Linked DNA regions of Homo sapiens. The protein of the gene in region 3 interacts with the protein of the main gene of each other region in a biochemical or structural test. Each region holds a gene or a part of one and is shown on either strand. Other genes may lie near its edges.

Region 1 (7,107 bases), about 34 Mb from region 3:
TGGGCATTTATTATGTTTTCCTCACTTTTACCAAAAATAAATAAGATCTTTAAGGAAGATTAATGTTTAGATCCAAGAAAAACCGAACACAAAGCTTTAGGATGATTTTTCACATTTTGTTTCACTGACAAGCAGTGAAAATGAATGAGCTTAGCTTTTTTTTAAAATCAAGATGCTACTAGGCCTGTAGTCTCAGTTACTCAGGGGGCTGAGGTGGGAGGATAGCTTGAGGCCAGCCTGGGCAACATAGTGAGACTTCGTCTCTTTAATAAAATATAGATAAATATATATGTGTGTGTGTGTGTGTGTGTGTGTGTGTGTGTGTGTATCTCCAAGATATTTGGTCACAGGCTAGAATTTTAGCTTCAGAAAGTACGTTATATTTATTTGTTTACCGCTTATCTTTTGTAGATGAGGTTAACTGAAATCTTGTGAGTTAAAGATGATAGAGTTACTTGGGGGCAAAACTGAAATTAAACCAGGCATCCTGAATTCTGAAACAATGTCTTCACCATCTAATGAAGGCCCTTGAATAAGTTTTAACAGTTTGGGTTTTGTCTTTTTCATAAAGTAGAGAATTTTCCCCAGTATCATAAACTGATTATGCCCTTTCTACAGGTATTATACCTTTGGAAAATCCAAACATTTCTGCATCAAAAAGACTGTGATGTATCAGAAACTACCTTGATAAACTAGCCAGTCTTTGAGGAATTGTACTGGAAACATTCTAGGATTGTCTACCCTGTAAACTGAACAAGAACATTTATTGTTCAAGTCATCAGATATTCCAACTCCAACTCTATGCCTTGTTTGTCACTATGAAGTACATAAGGGAGACATTACAAGCTGATTACATGCCTAGGTGCTGTACTGACCCTGTAAATCTTAAGCACATTGATTGTGTTGAAGAAGGATGGAGAAAAGACTTTACACTGGTGCCTTTTCATGTAGATCTTTTTATCAGGTTAAGTAGGATTTTTGCCAGCAACCGGTAGAAAAGCATTCTAGCAAAAGAGATGGCAAAGAAGCAAAGAAGTAGTACACAGTGTGGTGAAAGATTGACGAATAAGCTGTTGTAGCTTGTATACACAAATAGCAGGAAATTCGGCTGGATTGGTAGATGGGAGGCAAATCTTGAGTCAGTTTCTAACTATTATCAGAAATAATAAACTACAAATTTTGGATAAGCTATAAGGAACCATTGAGTTTTCTCATGAGGGTAAGGGAGAGTAACAAAAGAGCTGTATTTTTAATGCTAATAATAGCAGGGGAAGAATTATTAACAATCATATTTTGGCATCTGATCACATTCATGGTGGTTTTTTTCTCTTTATAGATACTTAAGTTTCTTCCTTCTCATTGTCATTACAAATATTGCTTCAGTGTCTTAAATATTCTCTTCCAAGACCCAGTTGAAATGTCAGCTCTCTGGAACAGTCTCTTTCCAAATAAGTGCTACTTCTGTTGATTCTGAATATTAGTTCAATCCTTGGCCTATATCTTTTAGCTTTTAAAGAGCCTTTTTATTTGGGGGAATATTTTTTGTTTCAAAGATCTGAGGCCATTTAAGGTATCTTTATTTTTAAGAATAAAGAAAAGGAATATCCAATCTTATATTTGTTAACTAGTTTCCCTCTAAAACTATCCAATCTAAATAAAAAGACTTTATACTTGACAGTTGGACAAAAACACTAAAGAGGTTTATCTGAAAGTGTGCCGATATGAGGAACTTGAGGCTAAAATATGTAAAGAATGACTTTTAAGAGTCTTTATCTTTGTAGAGGGTCAGTATTTTTTCTCAGTACCCACATTCTTCAATTTTATGGTACTACTTTATAACAAATACATTCATGAACTGATAATTTCCAAATGTTTGCTTTAAAGCCCCGTGACACTTGTCACTTTTGTCATCTCCCCATTGATTTCCTTTTTTCTTTCAACTTTCAAAATGAAATTAACTTATTTACTAGCTAGTACCTCTGAAGATATTTTTAAATCTCTGACACCTCACTCATCCAGAACTCTTATCTGGGAACCTTGTCTCTCTGAAATATCCCTAAGAACCAGGAAGAGTATATATATAAAATAAATGCCACAAAGTTGATGTAGTGAAATTCCTTTTCTATTCTCCCTAGAGGATCCCTTAGGCTCTCACCAGAACCTTTTGAAATACTTTTCTCTGAAATAGGTTATTTGATTTCTCAACCCATAACAGAGTAAGAGTAGCCAGTTAAAAGAGGGGCTTGTTGCTGGAAACAAGCATGACCAAAAACAAGGAGTGATAGCTGACAACCTGACAGAAAAGAAACAAGAAAATATATGAAGTATACATAAGACCTCAAAGCAAGGCTGTGTAAGCCCTTGACATAAGGACCAGCAGCCTTGTATACCTCTTGTAGCACCTGAAGACATCACTGCATTTCAGCTTAACGTAAGTGGTATTTATAGTGTAATGTTCTGCAGTCATCCTAAAAGATTTACTTATATATGTTCACTATATTCTGTTAAATAAGGTAGAATATCTCTTTAAATATCTCTAAAGAGAAAAAAACTACATGATACACATATTTCCATCCAAAAGGGTTAAAATTAAAATCTGCAGCCATCTAGAAATCTCAGCCGTTCCTGAATTCTTCATTCCCTAAGGGTTTCGTATATTATTGTAAGTTCTCATTTAATTCCATGCTCTAAGTGATTACTTCATCAGAGACAGTCTGACTGATTAGTTTTCAAGAGTATAGATGCCCCCAGCGTTAAGTATGGTAAACTTCAACTTTAGAAATTTCAGAGACCTAATGTTCTCTCCTTATTGTGCCCTTCTTGAATGGATTTTCCACTGTGCTCTTTGAATGGGTTTATAGGTATTTTTTTTTTTCCCTCAGATTGGCCGGTCGACTGAAAGCCCCATTGATTTTGTAGTAACTGACACGGTTCCTGGAAGTCAAAGTAATTCTGATACACAGTCAGTACAAAGCACTATATCAAGATTTGCCTGCAGAATCATATGTGAACGGAATCCTCCCTTTACAGCACGGATTTATGCTGCAGGATTTGACTCATCAAAAAACATCTTTCTTGGGGTAAAAAGCTTTTTTTCTAAATGATGCTTTCTTTTATACTAGCTTTCATTCCAAGTTACAAGTTACAAGTTGGAAGCTCACTGCTATTATTTCTACTAGGAGAAGGCTGCCAAATGGAAGACATCAGATGGACAGATGGATGGCTTGACCACTAATGGTGTTCTTGTGATGCATCCACGCAATGGGTTCACAGAAGACTCCAAGCCTGGAATATGGAGAGAAATATCGGTGTGTGGAAATGTATTTAGCCTACGTGAAACCAGATCGGCTCAGCAGAGAGGAAAAATGGTAAATACTGAATGGTATTTTCTTAATTAGCTACAATAAACACATAGGATGAGTAGAACTGAATGCATTACATACATTCCAGAAAACTCTTAAATCTATTGCCAACACAGAATACTAAGTCTATCAAACACTGACTACCAAATTCTATACTAGAGGACAGTCTCTTTAATATTTCGTTTAGTAGCCGGGCGCGGTGGCTCACACCTGTAATCCCAGCACTTTGGAAGGCCGAGGCAGATGGATCACCTGAGATCAGGAGTTCGAGACCAGCCTGAGCCACATGGAGAAACCCTGTCTCTACTAAAAATACAAAATAAGCCAGGCATGGTGGCGCATGCCTGTAATCCCAGCTACTCGGGAGGCTGAGGCAGGAGAATAGCTTGAACCTGGCAGGCAGAGGTTGCGGTGAGCCAAGATTGCGCCATTGCACTCCAGCCTGGGCAACAAGAGCATTTTAGTAAACTCTGGAAGTTCATTCTTCTGTCATATCATGTTAATATATTTTAAAACCTAAGCTTTCTTAAACTAAACAGCACTCCCTCTGATCTTTTCTGTTGCCATCTGTATATCTTAAACCATATTTACCTCATTAAAAATATTAGACTTATTGATTAGCCAGATGTTTTAATCATAAGTTGTCTTTACCATAAGGCTAAAAAGAAATATGTTAATGTTTGATATTTTATCCTTGATTTTCAAACTTAACATTTTTCATAACTACTGTCAGTTTCTTGAATATTTAGTGAAAATCCTAGGAAACCTCATTTCTTGAGTAAGGAGTACTTAAAACCAAAACACTTATGTAAAAATCCAAAACAGAGTGGTGAATATGTTTTTCAACTCTTGTCTCCTCTAGGTGGAAATTGAAACCAATCAGTTACAAGATGGCTCGTTAATTGACCTCTGTGGTGCAACATTGTTATGGCGTACTGCAGAAGGCCTTTCCCACACTCCTACCGTGAAGCATTTAGAAGCTTTAAGACAGGAAATCAATGCAGCACGACCTCAGTGCCCTGTAGGGTTCAACACACTAGCATTTCCTAGTATGAAGAGGAAAGACGTTGTAGATGAAAAACAACCATGGGTATATCTAAACTGCGGCCATGTACATGGCTATCATAACTGGGGAAACAAAGAAGAACGTGATGGAAAAGATCGTGAATGTCCTATGTGTAGGTCTGTTGGTCCCTATGTTCCTCTGTGGCTTGGATGTGAAGCTGGATTTTATGTGGACGCCGGCCCTCCAACCCATGCGTTTAGCCCGTGTGGGCATGTGTGTTCAGAAAAGACAACTGCCTATTGGTCCCAGATCCCACTTCCTCATGGTACTCATACTTTTCATGCAGCCTGTCCCTTTTGTGCACATCAGTTGGCTGGTGAACAAGGCTACATCAGACTTATTTTTCAAGGACCTCTAGACTAACAGACCATTGTCTTGCAGGACTACATTATAAATTTATAAGCTAAGTGAGTTGGGTTTTCGAACCTGTTGTCCACGTCACAGTTTTTCTGCTCTGGTCATTTGCATTAAGATGAAGAATTTTTTAAAACATTTATAATAAATAGTAGCAATTTCTGAGCAAAAATCTGGGAAACTCAAGCAAAGGAATTTCTGAAAGTATCAGTCTTCTGAATTCTGAGTTTTGAAAATATATTTTGAGGAGAAAAAGACATAGTCTAATTTGATGCCTTCCTTTTAGTGTTTTTGAATCACCTATCCTCAGTGCTGAAATTGTTTTGTATAACTGAGGGTACTGTTGGTTCAAACTATGTTAGTTTACAGTTTGTTGCAAACATTGTAAAATACAGCGACATGTATATTAACTTTTTTCTATTTATCTTTATTATAGAAAATACCTTAGAATGTTCTTGATAGAGTAGCATGGTAACGATGGTGTCACACCCTTGGTGTGAATGGTAGCTTAGTGAGCAACCTAGCTCAAGGATTTGCAAAGTTAGGAAGAAGGACGAGAGAGCCTCTCTCCCCACCCCAATCTAAATATGGAATTTGGTAAATTAGAATACTTTGTAATTTGTAAGACCAAATTCATACTAATTACCCGCGTGAAAGGTGTTTGTTTTTAACAACATTGAAGATAATCAGGAAAGATTTTTTCTTAATGTTTCTCTCGAGCGTAGTACTATAACAAAAACTTAATGCTAAGAAACATTTTATATGCTCCTTTGGATATGCAATTTAATCTAGATTATCTATTTTTCTCCCATGATAACTAATCTGTTTTTAGTATCAGCAGCATTTGGCAAGTTTATTTTTTGGATATAAACTGTGGTTCATCTGTTCACTGTTTCTAGAAAAAAATCATTGCCATAAGAAAAAGTATAAATTAGCAAGAAAGGAGAGTGACTTGATTTGCTTTTGGAAAAAGAAATGCTTAATTAATTATTCTGTATTTGGCCTTATTCGGGCATTAGGAAATCTAGAGATCTAAAGGGTTGAATGACAATAGTGCCCCCGTTTTTAGCAGACCAGCCTTAACTCTGGGTTTGAATCCTAAGGAGATTGCCACAGTGAGACTTAAGGAAATGTTTGGTTGGCAGATGAGCACCAATGACTGCAGCGTGGAGTGACGCACTGCATGGTCTGTTTATTCTCTAATTCCAATATGTCTTTTGCTTCCAGAAGCAAGAAAAGTTTCTTCTCTCCCCTCCTTCCCACCCTTTTTTCAAAGGCACCACAAGTATAGACAGTTGCACTACATCAAATCTTTTTTTGACACTTGTAGAAACCAGTACACTTTTAGATTAGACAGTATCTTCTTTTAATATTTTGATTTGTTTTCCTTTAGTTTGAAAAGTTGTATAATACTTAACTGACTGTAGCAAAGTTTTATATGTGGTAGCATACCTTTAATTTATCCTATTACAAAACTGTTCTGAATTTTCTTTTGGTTTTTAAAAAACAAAACTTGTTGCTTAGAAGCCATGAATTATTTTATTTTACTTCAACTGTCGAAACTTCCTTGTTTTAAAAAATGATCATTTGGGTTCACTCAGGAAATGCATGTCAGGAAACTTGTATTATAAGTTTATTAGTTGTGATGTATCAGTAACTGCTGTTACCCCTTTTTCAAAGAAATGTAATTGATTTTGAAGTTTTCTAGATTGTCACATGCTTTGTGACTAATGCAAGAAAGCAAGTCCTGTGTTGTATTTGTTCTAGTCATTTTTATTCAGGCTATATATTGTAGCTTAATTTTTATTTGCAATTAATTTATTTAAACTAAGTAAATACTTTTCAAAATACATAATTGAATTCGTCTCTGTGAGTTCATTTTTGCATAATCGAGAATGAGAAACCAGAAGTGAAAACTGTGAACAACTCTATTCCACACTCCAAAAATACTCATTTGAAATAGATGAAGAGTTTGCATTTAATGTAACACTTTAAAGTATCTGGTTCTTTTTTAAAAGCATCTCTTACTAATAAAGGAACTTTGTTAGTGGTTGAATAATTGAGGCCTTTTCTAAGTTAAGCCTTGCTAGGGAGTTGGCACCTGTAAGTTGCATGTTAGACTATTTAAATAGTGGCTTCGTAACCATAAAAGTTGCACGTCCTTCCCAAAGTTGCCTGCATTTTCTTCTAACAGGTAAAAACAATCTCTTCTAACAGGGAAAAACCTGGCTCATTTTCTATCAAATTCAAGTTTTAAAAATTCAGGCAATTTAAATGATCAGTTGGGTGTTTGCTGTTCAAGCAGAACTGTTATTTTGTCATGGC
Region 2 (7,107 bases), on a different chromosome or scaffold from region 3:
AAATTATTGTTAACTATAATTTCCCTTCTGTACTATTGAATACTAGAATTTATTCCTTCTATTTAACTGTACTTTTGTACCTGTTAAGCAACTTCTCTTCATTTTCTCTCCCCCATGCCCTTCCCAACCCCTGGTAACCAGCATTCTACTCTCTCCCTCCATGATACCCACTTTTTTAGCTCCCACATGAGTGAGAACATGCAATACTTGTCTTCTGTGCCTGGCTTATTTCCCTTAACATCATGACCTCCAGTTCCATCCATGTTGCTGCAAATGACAGGATGCCATTCTGTTTTATGGCTGAATAATATTCCCTCATGTTTATATACTAAATTTTCTTTACCCTTTCATCCATTGATGGACGTTTTGGTTGATTCCGTATCTTGGCTATTGTTAATAGCGCTGAACTTCAGAGTTGGATATATCCCCAGCAGCTGGATTGCTAGATCATATGGTAGTTCTGCTTTTAGTAGGACTAAAATACTGTTTTAAAAACCATACTGTTGTCTAGGCGCGATGGCTCACGCCTGTAATCCCAGCAGTTTGGGAGGCCAAGGTGAACAGATTACCTGAGGTCAGGAGTTCAAGACCAGCCTGGCCAACATGGTGAAACCCCGTCTCTACTAAAAAAATACAACAATTAGCCAGGTGTGGTGGCGGGCACCTGTAATCCCAGCTACTCAGGAAGCTGAGGCAGAGAATCTCTTGAACCTGGGAGGTGGAGGTTGCAGTGAGCCGAGATTGTCCACTGCACTCCAGCCTGGGCAACAGAGTAAGACTCTGTCTCAGAAAAAAACCCAAAAAACCATACTGTTTTTATAATGGCTGTACTACTTTACATTCCTACCAACAGTGTATAAGAATTTCCCTTTCTCCACATCCTTGCTAGCATTTATTTTTTATGTTTTTTATAATAGCCATTCTAACTGTGGTGAGATGATAGCCCGTTATGGTTTTGGTTTGCATTTCCCTGATGATGGTTAGTGATGTTGAGCATTTTTTTGTATGTAGTTAGCCATGCGTATATCATCTTTCGAGAAATATCTGTTAAGGTCTTTTGCCCATTTTAAAATCAGATTATTATTTTTTTGCTACTGAGTTGTTTGAGTTCCTTATATATTCTGGTCACTAATTCCTTGTCAGATGGATAGTTTGAAGATATTTTCTCCCATTCTGTAGGTTGTCTGTTTACTTTGTTGATTGTTTCATTTGCTGTGCAGAAGCCTTTTAGCTTGATGTAGTCCAATTGGTTGATTTTTGCTTTTGTTGCCTGGGCTTTTGAGGTCTTAACCCAAAAAAAATCTTTGCCCAGATCAATGTCCAGGGGCATCTACCCAGTGTTTTCTTTGAGTAGTTTCATAGTTTCAGGTCTTACATTTAAGTCTTTTTAACCCATTTTGAGTTTTTTTTTAATATGGTAAAAGATGAAGATTTAGTTTCATTCTTCTGCATATGGATATCCAATTTTCCTAGCCCTGTTTATGAAGGAGACCGTCCTTTCCCCAGTGTATGTTCCTGTCACCTTTGTTAAAAATGAGTTGGCTGTGTGTGTGAGTGCTCTGTTAGTTTCCATTGTTGTGTCTGTGTTTATGCCTGTACCATGCTGTTTTGCTTACTGTAGTTTTGTAGTTTAATTTGAAATCAGGTAGCATGAAGCCTCCAGCTTTGTACTTTTTGCTTCAGATTGCTTTAGCTATTCAGGGTCTTTTGTGGCTTCCAGATGGCATTTAAAATTAGTTTTCATTGATTAGAAGGAAGGCCTTTGATGCAAATTATGCCTGGGCTGTCTATTGATACACAGCAGGGAACAGCTACAGAAGGAACCACTGGATAGCACAGTGGAGGTCAAGGGTCTCACGTGAACTGGGACAAGAATGAGGGGTTTGCTCCAAGTTGGTTTGTTTGAGCCCTTGAGGGGAACTCGTGCCTCAGTTTTCAGCAGCCAGACAGGTGCCTTCTAGTTTCCTGATTCCAGTCCTGTGTGGTATAGTAGTGGCCCGTGCTGTATGGACTGACAGGAGTTTGGCCCATCTCCTGGGCTTGCAAAGCCCTTCTTTCAAGTGCTGCTCCTGCTGCAGGGGGCCCATGTGACCATCAACGCACGGGCCGAGGAGGATGTGGAGCCTGAGTGCATCATGGAGAAGGTGGCCAAGGCTTCAGGTGCCAACTACAGCTTTCACAAGGAGAGTGGCCGCTTCCAGGACGTGGGACCCCAGGCCCCAGTGGTGAGTGCTGCTTGCCCATCGCCAGCCCTTTTGTTGCTCAGGGCCTGAGGCAGGGGGCCAGGAATATGCACTTCCCAGCACCCGGGCTGGCTGGGCCCATGCCTGCTTAGTTTCTGCAGATGGTAACCCCTGAGCTGTGGTGATTGCCCACTGACCAGATGAGCAGGAATAGCCCTCTGACCTTGCCTAGGGGTTGGACTAGCTGTTCTGGAGCCTTCCTCTGGAGCCCAGCCTGTGTGGTCAGAGTGGAGGCTCTGCAGCATGCATGGCTATGATAGTCTGGCTGCCCTCAAGGTCATGGCACTGGAACATCTTGGGCTGCCCCTGGAGGTAGCCACCGTGGAGGAACTAAAGGAGGCATCAAGGCGGAGCCTGAAACCAGAGCAGGCCCCTTGGAGTCACGGGAGATACCTGTGGGCCTGTGGCCCCAGTGCTGTGTGGAGCTGATGGCTGGGAGCTGCGTCCGCATGCGTGTGGTTGGACGTGATTCCTTGGATGCTCTTGTGGTAGTCAGCTGTCTGAGTGCCCCTGGTCAGAGGCCTGCCTCAGAACTGCCCAATGTCTAGGAGTCTGCAGGTGGGGTATGGGGGCCTTTCTTGCCCTGGCCCCCATCCATGAGGGCGAGAGACCACCAGAGACCCCTCTAGTGTTGTCTGGGATTGAGCATCCCCCTTGGGGCAGTGTCCTGGGCTTCTTTCAGGTCATCTTGGTGTGTGTCTCCTTGAGGGTCACTGGGCAGTGCTCTGCTGCCTCTGCTGGGTCCAGTCCTAGCAGCACTCACCTGTGCTGTCGCAAGTTTAGCGTATTCTCTCCTTTGGTGCCTGTGGGCCTGGCCTTCCACCTGGGTCCAGGTCTCTAATGAGTGCTGTCCCCTACAGGGCTCTGTGTACCAGAAGACCAATGCCGTGTCTGAGATTAAAAGGGTTGGTAAAGACAGCTTCTGGGCCAAAGCAGAGGTGAGTGCTGCCCCGGGGCATGCTGGGCACGTGGGAGTGTTCTGCTTGCTGTGGCTCATCTTTCCTCACAAGTGAGCTCATGCAGCATCCACTCTCCTTGGTGCCCATTACAGATGGTCACACTGAGGCTCGGGTAAGTTAAGCCACAAGGCTAATGATCGACTGGCTCTGGTGCCCGTCTTTGGCCATGTGCCTAAAACTCAGTCCTGGGCAGGGGATTAGGCTGAAGTGGCAGCATAGGGCTGAGCGGGCAGTGGCTCTCCCTGCAGAAGGAGGAGGAGAACCGTCGGCTGGAGGAAAAGCGGCGGGCCGAGGAGGCACAGCGGCAGCTGGAGCAGGAGCGCCGGGAGCGTGAGCTGCGTGAGGCTGCACGCCGGGAGCAGCGCTATCAGGAGCAGGGTGGCGAGGCCAGCCCCCAGAGGTGAGCCAGAGGTGGAGGCTGGCCTGGGGGACCCACCCTGAGGCATTGCTGGGCACCTGCTCCATCCCATGGAGGCGAGGAGGACTAAGGGGTGTGGCATGAGAAGCTGTGACTGTGCCTCAGCTGTGCCCCACCCGGCCCTTCCCAGCAGGACGTGGGAGCAGCAGCAAGAAGTGGTTTCAAGGAACCGAAATGAGCAGGTAAGATGGGGGTGCTCTACTTGTTTGGACCTGTCCTGGCCACACGCAGAAGTCCCTGATCTCGGATTGAGGGCCCAGCCCAGACCTGGGCAGAGGCTGCCCTGCAGTCAGCTGGGGCAGGTTGGAATCTGGGCACCTCAAGAGGTGGCAGTAGAGAGGAAAGCCAAAGGCGGAAGCGTCGGGCTTGGACCACACCTGGTCCTGGGGGAGGCCCTGGGAGCCCCTTGGCTTCTGTGTTTTACTTCCTTTTTTAACGTTACTTTTTATTTTTAAATGACTTCTCTCCTGAGAACATGTTTTGCCTCCTGGCCCCACACTCACCTTTGAGGGGCTACTGGGCCGACAGCTGGAGGGGCTGTGATCTGGGGAGAGGTGGTGAAGGTTTTGCCCACTGCAGGGGTCAACATGTGCTTCCCTCCAGGAGTCTGCCGTGCACCCGAGGGAGATTTTCAAGCAGAAGGAGAGGGCCATGTCCACCACCTCCATCTCCAGTCCTCAGCCTGGTGAGCTCTCCCTTTGGGCCTGGCCATGAGGCAGCAGCAGGCTGAGGGGGAGCCTGGGGTCCTATGTGGGCTCCCCCAAGGCTAGTGACAGATATATCGGTGACGGGTGAGTGAGTGAGGAGAAGGGACACCTGGGGCCATTGACCTCATCAGTGACCACACTGGTCACCAGTTTGGCCTCCAAAAGATATTGGGCTGCGCTGTCTACCACGTCACCACATAGCACATGGCCCTGGGGCCTCTGTTCCTGCACTAGCAAGAGCAAGCCCCATGAGACTGCCTCGAGCACACCAGGGTGGAGGGTGCTGTGGGGTGCGTGGGTGTGTGGTGGTGTTTCTGAAGTGATGTATATATTTACCCGGGTTTGCAGGCAAGCTGAGGAGCCCCTTCCTGCAGAAGCAGCTCACCCAACCAGAGACCCACTTTGGCAGAGAGCCAGCTGCTGCCATCTCAAGGCCCAGGGCAGGCAAGGCGCTTGTCACCCCATGGGGACCCTGGGGGACAGCAGTGGAGAAGGGGGATGTGTGGGAGTGAGAACCTGCTGTGTTCCCTGGTGCAGATCTCCCTGCTGAGGAGCCGGCGCCCAGCACTCCTCCATGTCTGGTGCAGGCAGAAGAGGAGGCTGTGTATGAGGAACCTCCAGAGCAGGAGACCTTCTACGAGCAGCCCCCACTGGTGGGTTCCTACACTGGGGCTGGGGCCAGGAAGGGGCTGCATACTCAGGAACACTTATCACGGGCCGCCTGAGTTTTCTGGGGGCATGCAACAGGTTTTAAAGCACATGCATTTTTGGAGCAGCCCTGTGTTATAAATTGTCAGGGCACGCCCCACTCTATAGGAGGTGCTGGGTGGGAAGAGGACCTTGCAGCCTATGGCTGAGGGATTTATGCACTGTCCTGTGGCTTCTGTACTCTGGTAGGGCGGGGACAGCAGCAGCCCAGCCCCCGAGCCTGTAGACTGCTTGCCCTCTGCGTACTCCCAGCTTGACCTGAGCCATGTGGGGCAGAGCAGCGATTGTGTGTAAGGGCTGAGTCTGGGGTAACACCTTTGTCATCCCTGGGCAGGTGCAGCAGCAAGGTGCTGGCTCTGAGCACATTGACCACCACATTCAGGGCCAGGGGCTCAGTGGGCAAGGGCTCTGTGCCCGTGCCCTGTACGACTACCAGGCAGGTAAGGTGCCCTGGCCTGGCTGGCACAGACCACAGGGTCCTGAGGTTAGGAGACAAGAGGGTCTGGGGTTTTATGGGAAGATGGCACCAGGGGGTATCAGGAAGAGAAGACAGGAGGGTGGGCGGTGCGTTTAGGGGTAGAAGCACCTCTGGAGTGGGGGTGACTGTGGCACTAGAGTGTTCTGCACAGCCCAGGCCTCCCTACATGTTCCTCATTAGCTATTTGCTGGCCGCTGATGTGAATCCCAGTTGCCACCCTTGTCACAGAACATGGACTCTGAGCAGGGAGGTGGGCCAGGCCTGGATGCTGGTTCACCAGGCGTCCCTGGGTGGAGGCCTTGGAGAATGGGGTGGAGGCCCCCTACGGAGCAGGCTGGTGTCTACTCTAGCCTTTTTTGGGAATGCTCTGTAGGAGGGTATGCCCTGGGGGTGTGGTCACTGGAGCCGCATTGGGACAGGGTGCAGTGTTGGCCAAGGCTTAGCAGGGTGGCAGGGATATTTCTGAGGAGGAACCAGAGCTGCAGCGAGGTGTGCTGCAGCAGTGTGGGGCTGCCGTGGGCTGCCCGAGCAGGTGGGATGTGGGAGGGAGCCCCTGATATGCATCTGGGCTCATCCTCTTTGCAGCCGACGACACAGAGATCTCCTTTGACCCCGAGAACCTCATCACGGGCATCGAGGTGATCGACGAAGGCTGGTGGCGTGGCTATGGGCCGGATGGCCATTTTGGCATGTTCCCTGCCAACTACGTGGAGCTCATTGAGTGAGGCTGAGGGCACATCTTGCCCTTCCCCTCTCAGACATGGCTTCCTTATTGCTGGAAGAGGAGGCCTGGGAGTTGACATTCAGCACTCTTCCAGGAATAGGACCCCCAGTGAGGATGAGGCCTCAGGGCTCCCTCCGGCTTGGCAGACTCAGCCTGTCACCCCAAATGCAGCAATGGCCTGGTGATTCCCACACATCCTTCCTGCATCCCCCGACCCTCCCAGACAGCTTGGCTCTTGCCCCTGACAGGATACTGAGCCAAGCCCTGCCTGTGGCCAAGCCCTGAGTGGCCACTGCCAAGCTGCGGGGAAGGGTCCTGAGCAGGGGCATCTGGGAGGCTCTGGCTGCCTTCTGCATTTATTTGCCTTTTTTCTTTTTCTCTTGCTTCTAAGGGGTGGTGGCCACCACTGTTTAGAATGACCCTTGGGAACAGTGAACGTAGAGAATTGTTTTTAGCAGAGTTTGTGACCAAAGTCAGAGTGGATCATGGTGGTTTGGCAGCAGGGAATTTGTCTTGTTGGAGCCTGCTCTGTGCTCCCCACTCCATTTCTCTGTCCCTCTGCCTGGGCTATGGGAAGTGGGGATGCAGATGGCCAAGCTCCCACCCTGGGTATTCAAAAACGGCAGACACAACATGTTCCTCCACGCGGCTCACTCGATGCCTGCAGGCCCCAGTGTGTGCCTCAACTGATTCTGACTTCAGGAAAAGTAACACAGAGTGGCCTTGGCCTGTTGTCTTCCCCTATTTTCTGTCCCAGCTCATCCGTGTCTCTGAAGAACAAATATGCTTTTGGACCACGAATTCCCAGTTTGGTCTACACAGGCTCGCAGCTCTCACCTGTCCTGCTGTAGCCTGAATGCTCCCATGTGG
Region 3 (7,107 bases):
GAGGCAGGCGCGGTCCCACCCCGTCCTCCCGAAGGCAACACTCTAAGGAGGGAGAGCCGTGAGATAAACTGAGAAAGAAACAAAAATAATAATTACAGATTGAGGTCAGCATTACAAAGGAAATAAGTGGAGTGACATTAAGAGAGAGAAGAGGTGGCTCTAGCTAGGATGGTCACCTTCTCCAAGGAGCTAGCATTTGAAGGGAGAGCTGAAGGAGGAGGAGCCAACTTTTCAAAAAGCGCGCGGGACAGCGCATCAGGCAGAGAGGACTGCATGCGCAGAGGCCCTGAGGCCGCACCCAGCTTTGCTCACCCAAGGGCCCTACCCCTCAGCCTCCCTTGTCCCTTCCGCTGACCCTTTCCCCTCGGCCTTAGCAGGCACCCCTCGCCCTGCCCTCTGCCTTCCTTGGCAAGTTTCTACAGAGCATACGCTAATTGGAATATCCATCCCTAGGGGACTGGTTAAATGCATTAGGGTTTAATCTCAAAGTGAACTCTGATACAGCTATTAAACAAAACGTGTGATTGAGGGGAGGAGGAATTAAGGCTATTTAGACAGATGGATATCTGGTAAGGCAGATAACTTAAAATTGCCTGCCCTCAACTTTCTGGGGTGATGGTGACGTCCTGTATATTCACAGGGCTTGGGTTATGCAAGTGTCTGATTTTCCGAAAACTAAGAGAATGTACACTTAAGATGTGTTCATTCCATTGTATTTGCCCTCCCTCAATTAAAAAAGAAACATAAAATATTGAACCCTAGGTAACGATCTGCTTGCAGAAATGTTTAGGAGTGATGGGAACTGAGGACTGTAATCTAATTTGAGAGCATCCCAAAAATAACACTGACCGATGGACGAACAGAGCGAGAGGGATGGATAAAAGGATAGACAGCCAGATAGACACAGTTGATTTCTGTCATTCTCTGCAGTTCTATAAAGTCAACGAAAACACTGAATTAGCAATATAGAACTATCCCTCCTAGGGGAAATACAGAGTTAGGTTCCTAGGAAACTGTTTACATTTTCATCAACTGATCAAGACATAACCTTGTTTTTTTGTGAGTTTCTGTTTAAAGGCACCTTATTTAATAGACATGGTTGATTCACTAACATTGAACTCTTAGCCAACAGCACTATAACTATAAGCTTATCTGACATGTTTTCTCCATAAGGCACATACAGCATTCTTGCCCTTAGGAATGCTAGATAGCATTTCAGCACTATGGTTGGGGGCCATGTCAACCACTGAAATCACCAACAAAAAGCACAAACATTCAAAATATGTGAGGCCGAGTGCAACGGCTCATGCCTGTCATCCAGCACTTTGGGAGGCCAAGGCGGGTGGATCACTTGAGACCAGCAGTTCGAGACCAGCCTGGCTAACATGGTGAAACCCCGTCTCCACCATAAATACAAAAAATTAGCCAGAGGTGGTGGCGGGCACCTGTAATCCCAGCTACTTGGGAGGCTGAGGCAGGAGAACCTCGTGAACCCAAGAGGCGGAGATTCCATTGAGCCGAGATCAGGCCACTGCACTCCAGCCTGGGCAACAAGCGCGAAACTCTGTCTTTAAAAAGATAAAATAGGCCGAGCGTGGTGGCTCACGCCTGTAATCCCAGCACTTTGGGAGGCCAAGGCAGGTGGATCACAAGGTCAGGCATTCGAGACCATCTTGGCCAACACAGTGAAACCCCGTCTCTACTAAAAATACAAAAAATTAGCCGGGCATGGTGGCAGGTGCCTGTAATTCCAGCTACTCGGGAGGCTGAAGCAGAATTGCTTGAACCTGGGAGGCGGAGGTTGCAGTGAGCTGAGATCGCGCCACTGCCACTGCACTCCAGCTGGGGCGACAGTGCGAGACAGCAATCTCAAAAAAAAAAAAGATAAAATAAAAAAACAAAATATGTGGCACCACCAAATAGAACATGAAAAAGATTGGCCGGCTGCGGTGGCTCACGCCTCTAATCCAGCATTATGGGAGGCCGAGGCGGGTGGATCACAAGGTCAGGAGACCAAGACCATCCTGGCTAACACAGTGAAACCCTGTCTCTACTAAAAATACAAAAAAAAAAAAAAAAAAAAAAAAATCAGCCAGCCATGGTGGCGGGCGCCTGTAGTCCCAGCTACTCGGGAGGCCAAGGCAGAAGAATGACATGAACCCAGGAGGCAGAGCTTGCAGTGAGCTGAGGTCACGCCATTGCACTCCAGCCTGGGCGACAGAGTGAGACTCTGTCTCAAAAAAAAAGAACATGAAAAAGACACTTATCTGCAGCATGAGAGTGTTTGCCTTGTGCAGCCTCGGTGGGAAAATGTGTATCGAGTGATTCATATTTTTGCCACTCTGTATGTCTGAGAATGACCACAAAAGTGCCATGTTGGTTTTAGGGTTTCAGATAAATTTAACAAGTAGGCAAACTCACAAATAAGAACTCCGCAGTGTTGATCAACTGTATGTGATAAAGCAATTATAGCAAATCATAAACTGGAGAATCTAGCAGGTGAGTTATTGGTGTACAGTTAATTCTTTCTATTTTCTGCATATTTGTAAGTTTTCATAGAATGTTGGGAAAAAATACCTCTCCATAGCGGTTCTGAGTTGTTTCTCTACTAACATAGGCCCAGCAAGGCTACTCAGGCATAAGTTTGCATTGGAGAATTGACTTTGAGTGCCCTTCTTAGTTATGCAAATGCAACCAAGGGGTAAAATGAATGCTTTTGTGAAAGCTCCCTCTGCCCTGGGTGTCCAGAGATGGGCTCTGGAGCTGAAAGGAAGGTACTGGAATGGGAATCAGGTGAAGTCTGGGTCAGAGTAGCTAGAGGAGGGGCCAGGATCTGCACTGTAACCCGATTGATTGTGACAGTGAGGTTGGGAGGGCCAAGCTTGAGGGGGGTCCTGGATGTCCCAACAGTTACAGACAGGTGGGTGTTCCAGAGATTCATAAGGGACTGCATTTGTGGCTCCACCTGGAGAAAAAGGTCACCATTCCACAAGAGTGTTTTTAAAAAGTCATGAAGCGGCTGGGCGAAGTGGCTCACGCTTGTAATCCCAGCACTTTGGGAGATCAAGGCGGGTGGATCACATGGGGCCAGCAGTCTGAGACCAGCCTGGCCAACATGGTGAAACCCCGTCTCCATTAAGATACAAAAATTAATGGCTGGGCCCGGTGGCCCACACTTTGGGAGGCCGAGGCAGGCGGATCACCTAAAGTCAGGAGTTTGAGACTAGCCTGGCGAACATGGTGAAACCCCGTCTCTATTAAAAATACAAAAAAATTAGTCGGGCGTGGTGGTGGGCGCCTGTAGTCCCAGCTCCTCAGGAGGCTGAGGCAGGAGAATCGCTTGAACCCAGGAGGTGGAAGTTGCAGTGAGCCGAGATCGCACCACTTCACTCCAGCCTGGGCAACAGAGCAAAACTCCATCTCAAAACAAAACAAAACAAAACAAAACAAAAAAACCCATGAAGGCTCCTAGGTATTCACTCTAAAGAAATGGAAATTTACATTCACACAAAAACCTACACAGGAACATTTATAGCCGTACTAGCCACAGTTGCCAAAAATTAGGAATAACTTACATGTTTCCCAACAGATGAATAAGATACACTGTGGGACATGCCTACAGTGGAATTCTACTCCGCGGTAAGTGGAACAGCATACGGAGACACGCAGTTCCGCAAACGCATCGCAAAGGCCTCAGGCTGGATGAAAGAAACCAGGTTCCAAGGGCTACGAATTGTGTGATTCCACACACAACTATAGGGACGGAAAACGCACCAGAGGTTGCTGGGTGCTGGGGGCCGGAGAAGGAGTGACGACAGAGGGCAGGACGGAATTTGGGGGAATAGTCTGTATCTTGATTGATGTGGTGGTAGTCTCTGGGCTGTATGCATTTGTCAAATCTCAGAATTTTTCACTAAAATGATATAAAAATTTTATTGCATGTAAATTATACCCCAAATTTTTAATTAAGGGGGAAAGGAACTGGAAGATACAGACACAATGGACACTAAAAATGCTAATGAAAATAGGAAAAGTGATTAAGGGCTGTCTACACTCCTGTCCCTATGTCCTTGACTCCCAGCCTCTCAGCCAGACCTGGTCTGCGCCCCCCCCCCAGGCTGTTCTCCAGCACTGATAGCACCCCTGGCAGTCTGTAGGCACCAGACAAGCACTCTGTGACCTCCTCAATCCTGGGCCCCCTGAATGGCCGACACCTATGACTCCTCCCTCCTGCTTGAGCCCCACAGACCTCTCTGGTCCTTCACAAACTCCCTGGCTTGCCTCTGCCCTCTGACCATCCTGCTCACTCTCCTTCCCCCACCCCCGTCCCCTTACTTGGGTCATCCTGTCAGTAGCTGTACATGCTGCCACACCCACCTCTCCCAGAGCCCAGATCTCTCGCCCGACTGAGGTCGGTTGGTGCTGGCATCATCTCCTTTGATCTCCACCAACTGTTTCCATTAATACAACCAACCTAAGATCCAGATGGCATGCTCATGCTGCCTGTGGCTGGCTGAACCTCACAGTCTATTTCCACAGAGCTGAGCCCCAGAGTCTGCAAGTTGCTCCTTGGCAATTCTTCCCCAAGGCCTCCCTTGCTCAAGACCCTAATGGCTACTGCATTGGATCTCCCCAGCCCTCTGCCCCAGCTGAGCTGTGCTACTTGCCTTCCTTCAAATGGATGTTCATACTTTCATCCACACAGCACCCTCCACCTAGTGCACCCTTCCCTCTCCCCTCCATCTTCTCCAACCCAGCCAGCCCATCCTTGAAGACTCATGGAGCCACTCCCATAAAGCATGAGGATGCAGGATGAGGCAGAAAACTGAGGGCTTGTCCAAGGACCATGGGTGCAGAGTAGCAAAGCTGGTCTCTGGGGCAGGAAGCTGTGGCAGGAAACTGTCGCCAACACAGTTTGAGAAGCTCCTCCCCACGTGGCCGCAGGTGCAGCCTGGGTAGCTAGAAGTGGGTTAGGGCAGAAGAGGAGATGAGGGAGGCTCAGTGCCCAGCCCAGGGCTGCCATCCATGACCCGAGGCTAAGGAGTCCCAGAGGCAGGCTCTCTTCCTGTGCATCTCGGCTGCGTCCCAGCTTCCCTGTCCCACTGCCCACAAGGACAACGGTAATCACAAGCACCACCCCACACACACAGGTCGGGTGGTGGGCGCCTCCTCTTCCACCCCTGGGGCCTTTCTGGACTGTCCTCACTAGTAAAACATGGGGCCCAAGTTCCCAGGGACCCCATGGCCAGAGATGCTGGGGAGGCCAGAGAAGGTGGGCAGAGGTGGCAGAGATGAAAAGTCCGGGGGCAAGAGGTGGGAGCATTTGCCACGCAGCGGCTAGCCGGAGTGTCTGCTGTCAGTGAGCTGCACCGATCTAGAGCTCCCCGGGGTGACCCCAGACCCCAGGCAGGGGATCAAATGTTTCTGTTCTCAGCTGTGTCCCTGCAGACTCGTGGCCCTCCCAGAAGACACACCCACCATGAGACCCACCCCAGCCCTCGACCTGCCTGGGCCATCCCGACGGACAGGACTTGGGTTAGGAGCCGCGTCCCTCAGTCCCCAGTGAGCCTGTTCATTCCCCAAGCCTGGCCTATGGTTCTCCCTAGGCTGACCCCAGTCAGCTTCCTCTTGAGCTCACAGTTCAGAGATCCTAGTTTGGCCTTCCCAGAACTTACAGCCCCTGGATCACAGCACAGAGATCACAGCAGAGCAGCCACGGGGCACCTGCCCCACACTCACAGCCCAGGCCCTGGGAGGATGATGGGAGGAAGCCTTGGAGCCTGGTCAGAAGGACCTGCCTGGAATCCCACCATTCACCCAGCCTCCCTGGGTAAAGGCAGTGCTAGATTACAGCTGTTCCAGAGAGATCAGATTCCCCAAACATGCTTCAAAGGAAAAAAGAGTCAAGGGGTCAAATACAGTTTCAAATGCTGTGAAAAGCACATTAAAGGCTCCGAGAAGACCACATGGAAGGACCTCTTTCAGCGTCACTTAATTCCCACACCTATTCAGCAAAGCCTTGAAGGTCTACTGTTTCACAGAACATTCCCTGGGCATCAGAAGCCCCCATTACATGCCCATCGTCAGAGCAGAGGTATCACACCAAAGCCACTGGACCTGGTGGGAGCGGGCAGGAGCAGCACAAGCTCCACATGTCCCCCCAGCCAGAGGCTCCACGTGTCCCCCCAGCCAGAGGCTCAGAGGCTCCTCGTGTCCCCCCAGCCAGAGGCTCCACATGTCACCCCAGCCAGAGGCTCAGAGGCTCCGCATGTCCCCCCAGCCAGAGGCTCCGCATGTCTCCCCAGCCAGAGGCTCCGCATGTCCCCCCAGCCAGAGGCTTGACATGTCCCCATCCAAGGCTCTGCAGGAGCAGGGCCCCAGCCCCTCACCGCCCCACCTCCTCCTACTGCCCCCCCACCACCCTGTTCCCACTCCAGCTCCTGGCTCTCTCTCTCTGAACCCCTAGTCCTCACCTGAGACCCTAAGTCCCTCTGAAGCCATGTTCCCTGCTCCTTAATCCCCCAGCTGTGCTCGGGCCGCCTGTGCCCACCAACAGAGGCAGCATAGGCACTGGTCGTCAGCACACGCCAGCTTGGTGACGCCATGAGCCACACAGCCGCAGTTAGCCATGGCTGCAGGCTCCTCCTTCATATGTCTTTCCTGACTGCAGGGATTGGATTCAAATCATGGAATCGTGGACCCACCACATGGTCACAGTGCAGCCTCAGCAGCGAGTGAAGCTCGCCAGACCTCCTCCGGAAAGCAGGGCCAGTGAAGGTGTCCAGCACTGGGGCTGCAGGGACTCCCTGGGGTGAGACTTGCTGGCCCCCGTCATGCCATCACATCCTCTTCTCTGCTTGAAGCCCTCTAGGCTCCCACCTCACTCGGGGTGAAAATGCAAGTCCTCAGGGTGGCCCCCAAGGCCCTTCATGATGCCCATCACCACCCCCCGCCACTCACTCCCCTCCAGCCACACGGGCCTCCTCATGTTATTCGTTCAGGTCCCTCGGACAAACCAGGCATGGTGCAGCCTCAGGGCCTTTGTACTGTCTGTTCCCTCTGCCTGGAGACTCTTCCTCCAACACCTTCCACTTTATTCAGGTCTCT

Evidence for each region.
Region 1: the proteins of ZAP70 (region 3) and PELI1 form a complex in vitro, tested with the Homo sapiens proteins (one study listed by BioGRID).
Region 2: the proteins of ZAP70 (region 3) and DBNL form a complex in vitro, tested with the Homo sapiens proteins (one study listed by BioGRID).

Annotation. Positions count from the first base shown.
Region 1 is NC_000002.12:64,092,386-64,099,492, reverse strand, and holds the end of PELI1 (E3 ubiquitin-protein ligase pellino homolog 1), read left to right. Parts: intron 1-2,215; exon of another isoform or gene 2,216-2,431; intron 2,432-2,882; coding exon 2,883-3,080; intron 3,081-3,179; coding exon 3,180-3,368; intron 3,369-4,224; coding exon 4,225-4,791; 3' UTR 4,792-6,841; downstream 6,842-7,107. UniProt on the Homo sapiens protein: E3 ubiquitin ligase catalyzing the covalent attachment of ubiquitin moieties onto substrate proteins. Involved in the TLR and IL-1 signaling pathways via interaction with the complex containing IRAK kinases and TRAF6.
Region 2 is NC_000007.14:44,054,679-44,061,785, forward strand, and holds part of DBNL (drebrin-like protein), read left to right. Parts: intron 1-2,078; coding exon 2,079-2,225; intron 2,226-3,103; coding exon 3,104-3,181; intron 3,182-3,450; coding exon 3,451-3,602; intron 3,603-3,750; coding exon of another isoform or gene 3,751-3,753; coding exon 3,754-3,802; intron 3,803-4,199; coding exon of another isoform or gene 4,200-4,223; coding exon 4,224-4,305; intron 4,306-4,675; coding exon 4,676-4,771; intron 4,772-4,864; coding exon 4,865-4,980; intron 4,981-5,369; coding exon 5,370-5,475; intron 5,476-6,098; coding exon 6,099-6,238; 3' UTR 6,239-7,107. UniProt on the Homo sapiens protein: Adapter protein that binds F-actin and DNM1, and thereby plays a role in receptor-mediated endocytosis.
Region 3 is NC_000002.12:97,716,562-97,723,668, reverse strand, and holds part of ZAP70 (tyrosine-protein kinase ZAP-70), read right to left. Parts: intron 1-7,107. UniProt on the Homo sapiens protein: Tyrosine kinase that plays an essential role in regulation of the adaptive immune response. Regulates motility, adhesion and cytokine expression of mature T-cells, as well as thymocyte development.